Regions from separate parts of the Homo sapiens genome. Here regions 1 and 3 are each linked to region 2. Evidence: fine-mapped expression QTL. A gene starts in region 2. Each other region holds a variant in brackets. All regions are shown on one strand. Distances are from middle to middle. Region 1 overlaps FAM167A-AS1 (FAM167A antisense RNA 1). Region 2 holds the start of TDH-AS1 (TDH antisense RNA 1). Region 3 overlaps FAM167A-AS1 (FAM167A antisense RNA 1).

Evidence for each region. PIP is the estimated chance that this variant, and not a neighbour inherited with it, causes the effect.
Region 1: its variant is fine-mapped to the expression of TDH-AS1 in amygdala (GTEx, PIP 0.97).
Region 3: its variant is fine-mapped to the expression of TDH-AS1 in pancreas (GTEx, PIP above 0.99). The same link has a PIP of 0.9 or more in stomach.

Annotation. Positions count from the first base shown.
Region 1 is chr8:11,414,592-11,417,415 of GRCh38, forward strand. All of the region lies in intron 3 of FAM167A-AS1 (FAM167A antisense RNA 1), which reads left to right. Among named protein-coding and RNA genes, the nearest start is that of FAM167A-AS1, 48 kb to the left of the region's middle. RefSeq lists enhancers at 1,899-2,400, 2,248-2,477, 2,401-2,824. The variant G/C (reference allele first, on the strand shown) is at 1,541.
Region 2 is chr8:11,346,147-11,348,962 of GRCh38, forward strand. TDH-AS1 (TDH antisense RNA 1) reads right to left here and starts at 1,370. Exons shown (of 2, transcript NR_147705.1): 1 at 1,151-1,370; 2 at 1-494. It also overlaps the pseudogene TDH. RefSeq lists an enhancer at 1,060-1,683 and a silencer at 1,238-1,517.
Region 3 is chr8:11,388,381-11,390,880 of GRCh38, forward strand. All of the region lies in intron 2 of FAM167A-AS1 (FAM167A antisense RNA 1), which reads left to right. Among named protein-coding and RNA genes, the nearest start is that of FAM167A-AS1, 21 kb to the left of the region's middle. The variant G/A (reference allele first, on the strand shown) is at 1,409.

The DNA.
Region 1 (2,824 bases), 68 kb after region 2:
TGAGAGGTAATCACTAAGATCCCATCTGCAAATAGTGCAGTTCTCCTCTACTTGGGGGCCCAGGCTAAGCTGGTACTTCTCCACACTTTGGATGTCAGGTTTGGCCATCTGACTTGTTTAGACCAAGGAAATGTGAGCAGAAATGATATGAGTCACTTCCAGGTGGGGGCTTTAAAAGCTGGGGGTGGGGTAGAGAGGAGAGGAAGAGGGGTCAAAGAGGAAAAACAAATATCCCCGTTGGGTGTGACTGCCATAACAAGATACCATAGACTGCGTGGCTTAAATAACAGACATTTGTTTTCTCACAGTCCTAGAGGCTGGAGGTCCAAGATCAAAGTACTGGCAGGGTTGGTTCCTTCTCAGGCCTCTCTCCTCAGCTTGTAGGTGGTGTCTTCTCCCTGTGTCTCCATGTGGCCGTCCCTCTGTGAGTGTCTGTGTCTTAATCTCCTCTTCTTATGCAGACGTCAGTCAGATTGGATTATGACCCACCCATATGACCTCATTTTACTCTAGTTACCTCTTACATAGTCCCATTCTTAGATGCTGGAGATCAGGATTTCAACATGTGAATTTTTGGGGGTCATAATTCAGTGCACAATAGCAAGTGAAGCTTTATTCCCGGTGGTGGCAGCAGGCAGAGGTGTGGACAGACCTCTTGAGAATCACCAGCTTTCCATAGCCGTTCCAGCTACAGCGGTGCAAAAAAGGCCCCCTGCTGAGCTGGGTGAAATCCGGGCGACTTTGGGGATGAGCTCTGTGAGTCACCTCTTCTCACAGCCTCTTCCCGGACACTGCCTGTCCCCGCCCTTCTAAGGGTTCTGTGAACCCTTAGTTCCTGAATCAGGTCCTTTCCTTCATGGAAGACTGAGGGGGCTTCCACTTTATTGACCAAACCCAGACTGGTGCAGAGGCGACAGGTTGGAGACGCATTTGTCCTGCTCCAGGCCCAGGTACCCCTCCCAGATGAGGCCGAGAGTGCAGTGGGTGGGGGAGCAGAGGTGAGCTCCCTGAAAGCCCTCCCTCCAGGCCTAGGCCAGGACCACCTGGGTGGGTGAGTCTCCGGGAGCGAGCCAAGGAGTGTGGCTTGTCATCTCTAACTCAGGTTTCCCTTGGGACTCTGGCTGTTCTTTAGCAAATGCCCCTTAGCTTCAGTAGTCTTTGCATGGAGAAGGGAGTAAGAGAATGAGCAGTGCAGGGCTTTCTGTTTAACAAATGGCTCAGGAAATACCCTACTGTCCTGCAAAGCTGCACCAAGCCTCACTTTCCTCGTAACCATCTTGCAGGCGGGAATGTTCCTGGCAGCGAGTGGTGGATGACGGATTCTTACAGCCTGCAAACACCTTCATTTTTTTATGATTAAAAAATAAAAAATAGACAAGGGTGGGGCATGGTGGCTCATTCCTGTAATCCCAGCACTTTGGGAGGCCGAGGCAGGCAGATCACTTGAGGTCAAGAGTTTCAGACCAAGCTGGCCAACATGGTGAAACTCCATCCCTACAAAAATACAAAAATTAGCCAGCTGTGGCAGTGCACACCTGTA[G/C]TCCCAGCTACTCAGGAGGCTGACGCAGGAGGATTGCTTGAACCCATGAGGCAGAGGTTGCAGTGAGCTGAGATCCTACCACTGCACTCCAGCCTGGGCAACAGAGCCAGACTCTGTCTCAAAAAAACAAACAAAAAGAGATGAGGTCTCTCTGTGTTACCCAGGCTGGTCTTGAACTGCTGGGCTCAAGCAATCCTTCCATGTCAGCCTCCCAAAGTTCTGGGATTACAGGCATGAGCCACCATGCCTAGCTAAAACACCTTTTTTCCCTTTTAATTTTTAAAAAATTGATGTATAATAATTGTACATATTTATGGGGTATATAGTGATGTTTCTGTGCATTCCGTGTCTAGTGATCAAATCAGGGTAATTAATATCCATCACGTCAAGCATGTATCCTCAAAGAAATGATAAATGTTCCAACGCATCTGAGGTTTCTCTTCCTTAATCAATTTCCTTTGGAGACCGCCTAGCTGTCTCCCTTGCTGTTTGCTTTGAGCCTGTGAACGGGGTACTTAAAAACAGCCCTGTCTGAAACCTTCAATCTGCTGAGCAGCTCCCATCAGATAGGGTCTGGTTACCACAGGCCTGTCTGCTCTGGTCACTGCCAACTTCCTCCTCTTCTGCCTGCCTCCTTCCCCAAGTCGTCTAGGCCACAGACTTCAGGCTTAGACATGGAGAAGGAGCCAGTGGGAAGTGCTTCTGGTCTTGTTGAGAAGTCAAAAGGGTGTGTGTAAACGGAGTTTACACCCTTTCCAAACATAAGAGAGACGAGATCTCTGGGAGGCCAAGGAAGCCACAGTTTGACGTCACCAGCCATGGGTCAGGGCACCTGGCCACGCTCAGCAGGGCACCAGCAGCTAATGTGGCAGCAGGCCGAGTCTCTGAATGAAGAAGCCACACCACATCTGAACTGTCGCTCCCCCTCTCCCCATACTCTGGTCTCCACCTGTTCAGTCTTGATCTCTCCTGGACTCACCCTAGCAACCCCCAGGTCACGTGGAGACCACTGGCCATGCACCTACCTCCAGCTCCGTTGGCTCTCCCGGCCCGTTTCCTCTCGTCGTCCTTCCCTCCTGACTCAGTCTAACACTAACATTGCTCCTTTGCAAAAAACATTCACTTTTGCTGTTTCCGTTCTCTGTCACCTGCTTGGCAAATCCTATCTCCCACTGTCTGCCTGGTCTTTGTCTGTATTGGAACTTCTAAATATTGCTGAAAAAATCAATCACTCCACCAGGCTTGCTGGACACACCCCACATTTATGACCACAGCCTCAAATGG
Region 2 (2,816 bases):
CCTTGCTTTAGTTTGTCCTCAATCTGGTCTGGTGTCTGAGCCCCGCCTCCTACCTCAATCCCACTCAAGGTGAGCTTGATATCCTCTTCCATCCACCACCAAGTTTGTGGAGAACGGAAAATAGCTCCTCATGATATGATAAGGAGTATTACAAAGGGCAGCGAGGCAGGGACAGGTTGCCTGGGTCAGCATTCTGGTCCCCCGTGGCCTTGATCCCATCTCGTCACGTCTCTGGGGGTATCGTGGTCTCGGTAATCTCAAGTCTCTTGAGATGCCAAAAGTCTGAAACCCCTACCTCCGTGGGCAGTTCGGTAGACCGCAGAACCGTAGTCATTTTAGACTGCATTAATAACACTTCAGGCGGGGAGACTACGCTGAGCAGAATGCACGGTGATCATGACCTAGTCGACATATTTCAAGGGCGCCAGAGGCAGAGCCATCTTCAGGGATCAAGTCAAGGGAGAAGCTGAAGAAAACGGGGCCTGGCTAGCCCGCTAAACAAAACGAGACAGATTTCACAAAATCACAGATTGTTAATGTCAGAAGACACCTTAGAGTTGTTTCTCCCAAACCGAAGGCGCCTGCAAGTCACTTGGGGATCCTGTTAAAATGCAGATTCCCTGGTTCGGTAGGTCTGGAGTGGGGGCTGCTTTGTCCAGAGACCACACCGTGGGTCCAACCTTCACAGCACACTGGAATCGCTTTAAGAGCTTAAAAAAATACTTAGGTCTGGGCTTCTCTATCCCCGTCCCCCCCAGCCCCGGAGATTCTGTCATTTGGTCCGGGGGCAGCCTGGGCGTTTGGAGGTTAAAAAGCTCCCAGGTGATTGCAATATGCAGCGGAGTTTGAGAACCAGCGCCTTGGACCCAGCTTCTTAAGCTACTGCGCGCACCGGCGTCCCGCTGGGGGCGCGCGAGCCCCACCCCCAGAGATGCTGACTCAGCAAGTCGGGAGGGGTTGGGGGTGGGACCTGCCAATCTGCATTTCCAACCGGCGCCCAGGTGACGCTGACTCTGCTGGTCTACCGTCTTGGGGGTCACCTAATTTTTCAGCGATGCCTCCCAGCTGGGGAGGCCAAGAAGTGCCTCGCTCAAGGTCTTCCAACACCCGACCTCCAGACCCTCAATCCTGGGCCAGCTACACCGCAAACCTTTCCAGCTGTCTCTCCTGCGCCCTGCGTTTCTTCCCCACGTCACTTGCCAGGGAGCCGCTAAACAGCAAGACCGCGCGCTCTGCGGCTCCAGAGTGCGGATTTCGGTCGCGTGCGGCTCTGACCGCGTCGCCCCATCCCTGGCGGGGCCACGCACGGACGCCATGGCTGGCGCCGCGGAGCCGGGCGATGCGCGCGGACTCTCCCGGGGCCCTGACTGTCCCTGAGTCCTCCCTGCGGGGGGCGTGCGCGGCCCGCCCCCCGCGGCGCCACGCGGCCCCTCCTCGGCCGGGGATTGGTGCGCCGGGCGGGGCGGGGCGGGGCGGGATAAAGGCGCGGGGTCTGGCTGCGCGGGGTCTGCGGGCAGCTCCAACTCTGGGTTCGTAGTTTGCGCTGGGTGCGCAGGAAGGTCAGTGTGGGGGTCGCCCGACATTTCCCCCCCGCGGAGGTGGGAGCCGAGCCACATCTTGGAGTGGGGACTGGCCGCGGAGCGGGTTGCCCAGGGCCGGCCGAGGTCGGGGCGAGCCCTGCGCGGCGCTGGAGACTCTGCATTCCCGGGCGCGCGCAGGGTCCCCGGCCGTGGTCGCAGAGTCAGGAGGGGCGGCTCCGGAGCCCGGCGCGGGGAGGGCCCAGGCGCAGTCGGGGTTGGCAGGGCGCGACACTCGCTCCCCTCCACTTTTGAAAGGGCTTCCCACGCCGAGAAGAGGGGCGGGCATGGCCGGCCCGGCGAAACCGGTTTGTACAGACTTTGGGAAGCCATCGCCTGCGGAGGGTGGGACCCCACAGCTTGTCCACCTGCCCAGGCTGAGACCTCGTGTCCTAGTCCTGGATGCCCCACGGGTTTCTCGTCCCGGGCAGCGGCGCACGGGAGGAGAAGACTCCCGGTCTGCAGTCAGACCTCCCTCTGAGACCCTCCCTAGCTCAGGCTTAGAGCTTTGGGATTTTTCTCGATCCTTTCTAGCTTTCAGATCATCCCCACGTAAAGTTCAGACTTTACCAGCCCAGAGAGTTTAAAAAAAAAAAAAGAGAGAGAGAGAAAGCGAATGTGGATTGAGCCTTTACACTGACCGCGCAGTTTGCACAGTGCTTTTCATAGATTGACTGCTTTTATTAAACGCTCTCAACAGTCTATTAGGATGGCATGGTGATTGCCCCCTTTCTGAGGACGCGGAAACTTGAGATTTGGCGAGGCAAGAAGCCAGGCGCACACAGCTAGGCGGGCCGCGGGCCGCGACCCCCTGGCTGGTCCGTGCTCTCCCCCTGGGGAGGGGTGCAGGCTGCCAGGAAAGGTGCCCCCTGCGTGGCCCTGGGGGTGTTTCTTCCTCTTTGTCTCTTCTTAGGCATCTGATCTCATCTCTTAAGTGGGAAGAGTCGGGGTGGTGGAAGTAGAGGGTATGGGACACGGTGGACCTACCTCACTTGGTAGTTAGTAACTGCCTCACCTTGGGCGGGTCAGTGGATTCTGAACAATGGGGAAAAGGTCCCAGCTTCAGGGTTGCTGTGAGGGTTTAAGAAGAGTTCAGGAAAGCAGATGCTTCACCAACGCTCCGTAGTTACCAGGCGCCTGATTTTTCCTTGGATCATTACTATTAAGAGGATGCATTGGTGATGATGATGATGTAATGAGTCAGAGGTTTTAAAGCCCAGACTGCCTTGAAAATGCGTC
Region 3 (2,500 bases), 42 kb after region 2:
TTTTTTTTTTTTAGAGGAGAGGGTGCTGTCTTTTCATCAGATTCTCAAAGGGTCCCCTTCCACCCCAAAGGATAAAGAACCACGATGCTAAAGGATGTCCACCTAAAGGGCGACAGCTCTAGTGTGAGGGTACAAGCTTGCCATCTCACTCCCACCACCTGCCCAGGGCAGCAGGCCTGAGAGCAGGGCAGTCTTTGACAAGCCAGCAGTGCTCGTGCCAGAGGAAAACAGGGTGGGTCGTGCACCTGTGCTGGAGCAGTTACAGGCCCCACTTAGCTTATCGGCCGGCCGCTCTGCTCGGGTCTTGAGGCTCAGACCTTGTGAGCTGATAGCATCCTCCCTCTTTCCAGAGTCAACACAGCCATGGGCCCGGGAAGCTGGCAGCCATTCTCAGGAAGGGGGTCGAATGCCATGTTATCACCGGGCTGGCAGTTGTGTAGCCTTCGCCGGGACGGGCCCCTTTGGCTTGTTCTCCTTATCTTCTCTCCTCTCAAGGCCCTGCAGTGGTTATTGAGGGCAGCGGATCCAAGGGCATAATCTCCCTCCTGCCTCAGGCTCCCTGAGATCTGTAGCGAACATCCACCGTTCCTCAATGTTCCTCACCCTTCTTCAGTCTGATGTCTTAGTCCCCCAGACATTTCTTATTCATCACTGGTAGGGAGCGTTGCAGGGCCCCTGTGCCTCTAGAACCATAGGCATGGGCGAGAATGCAGACTCAGCACCTGCGGAGGGGGCTTTGGACCTGTGTCTGGCAAACATCCTTGGATTGTGACAGGGTGGGCTGAACTGCTGGGTAAGAGATGGAGACCAGCTGAGCATCGCAGGTTCGGGTATTCTATGTGGTGCCAACACCACGGAGGTCTTCAGTCCTGTGTGAGCAGAGCTTAAAGGGAAATGTCACGTTAGGGAGAGCTGCAAGGTTTCCTGCCACACACTACCAGGAGAAAGAAGCCACTTGTGTATGTGGGTACGACTAGAAAGGTGAGCCGCAGGACTAGAAGTGGTGGAATGCATTCTGGAAGGCCCATCAGGCCAGATGGGCAAGTTATCCTGGAAGTGATTGACAGCAAAATCACACCCAGGAAACTCAGAGACCTAAAGACGGCCCCGCTTCTCATTCTATGTAAAACCCGTTTCAGAAGAGAGAGAGGGAGGCCACGCTGATTATTCTTGGAAAAGGTCAGCTTGGGTGGCACCTGTTCAGACTGGATGAGGGCAGGTGCGATGGATGTGACTCAGCTCCCGACCGGCAGTATCCCAGGGAGCAGGGACAAGCAGGTCCTCAGCTCTGGTCAGAAAGCAGAGGACCCTGGACCCCAAGTGGTCTGCTGCTTTGCCTGACAACCCTGCCCATAAACTGCTTGTGAGCAGAACAAGCGAGCAAGTGTTCACCCCCTGGCATTCACAG[G/A]CACTGGTTCAAGTGGGGCAGATTTTGAAGTACGGGCTGCCAGGGCCTCAGAGGCAGGAACTTCTGCCCATTGCTGTGCTGCTGCAGCTCACAGCAGGCTGTACCCACACAGAGAACATACTCCTGGGGCTCAGGTGGGGGAACAAGGGAGGGGTCAATGTGATGAACAATTCTGGCTGAGAGAGAAGCAGGGATGGGTGGGAGGAGGATGGAGAGAGAGAGAGATGAAGGTAGGGCACCCTCTCGGAGACACAGGGCGGGCTTGTGCTCCGAGGACTCAGCTCAGAATTCAGCCCCATCTCCAGGTCACCTCAAAGCCCTAATGTTGCTGGGCTCCCCTCAGTGACACTTGCCTTCTCAGTCTCACCAGGCTATTCTGATGGCTTCTACTAATGCCCTCTGTCCTTCTGGCAGAATGTGTGGCCAGTGAGTGTCCTGGAGGGGAGGGTGAGAGTCTCCATCCAGAACTTCTCGACTGCAGAGCTGTGAACACGGAATGAGTGTGTGAGGTACGGAGGTCCTCGGCCCCAGGGGACCCCAGGTGCGCTCACAGCCTCAGGGGCGGCGGCCTTCTGCATCGCGGCATGTGGCACGCAGAGTGTCATGTGCTGTGTGTGCCACACGGTGAAACAGGTGGAGACACTGACAACAGGCTTAACTGGGAAGCTGTGCCCCAAAAGGAGCTTCAAAGAAGAGCCCCCTCCACATCCTCAGGAGAAGGACTCTTGGTTGGAAAAGGCCTGGAAGTGACCAGTATCTATGGTGCTTCGTCTCTTTCTCAGGCCCATAAGGACAGAATTTACATTTGAAAAGAAGAACAACACAGAAACTTTTGCAAAGGGCTGCCAATACTTTTTCTCTGAGGAACGTGCAATGTGATGAACAAAATTTTTTCCCAGAAAGCCAGAGGCTGGGCAAAGGCAGAGGGGCCTGGAGGCTGCTCCCAGGTAGGGAAACTTCTGGAGCAGGGACTTGACTCCACCTCCCAGGGGGACCGCATGTCCAGAGTGTGCACTTCTGGGAAGGCTGCAGAGCTGAGAGAAGCTGGTCAGATGCCCGATGCCCTAACCCTGAGATGGAGCTGCTCCCTGC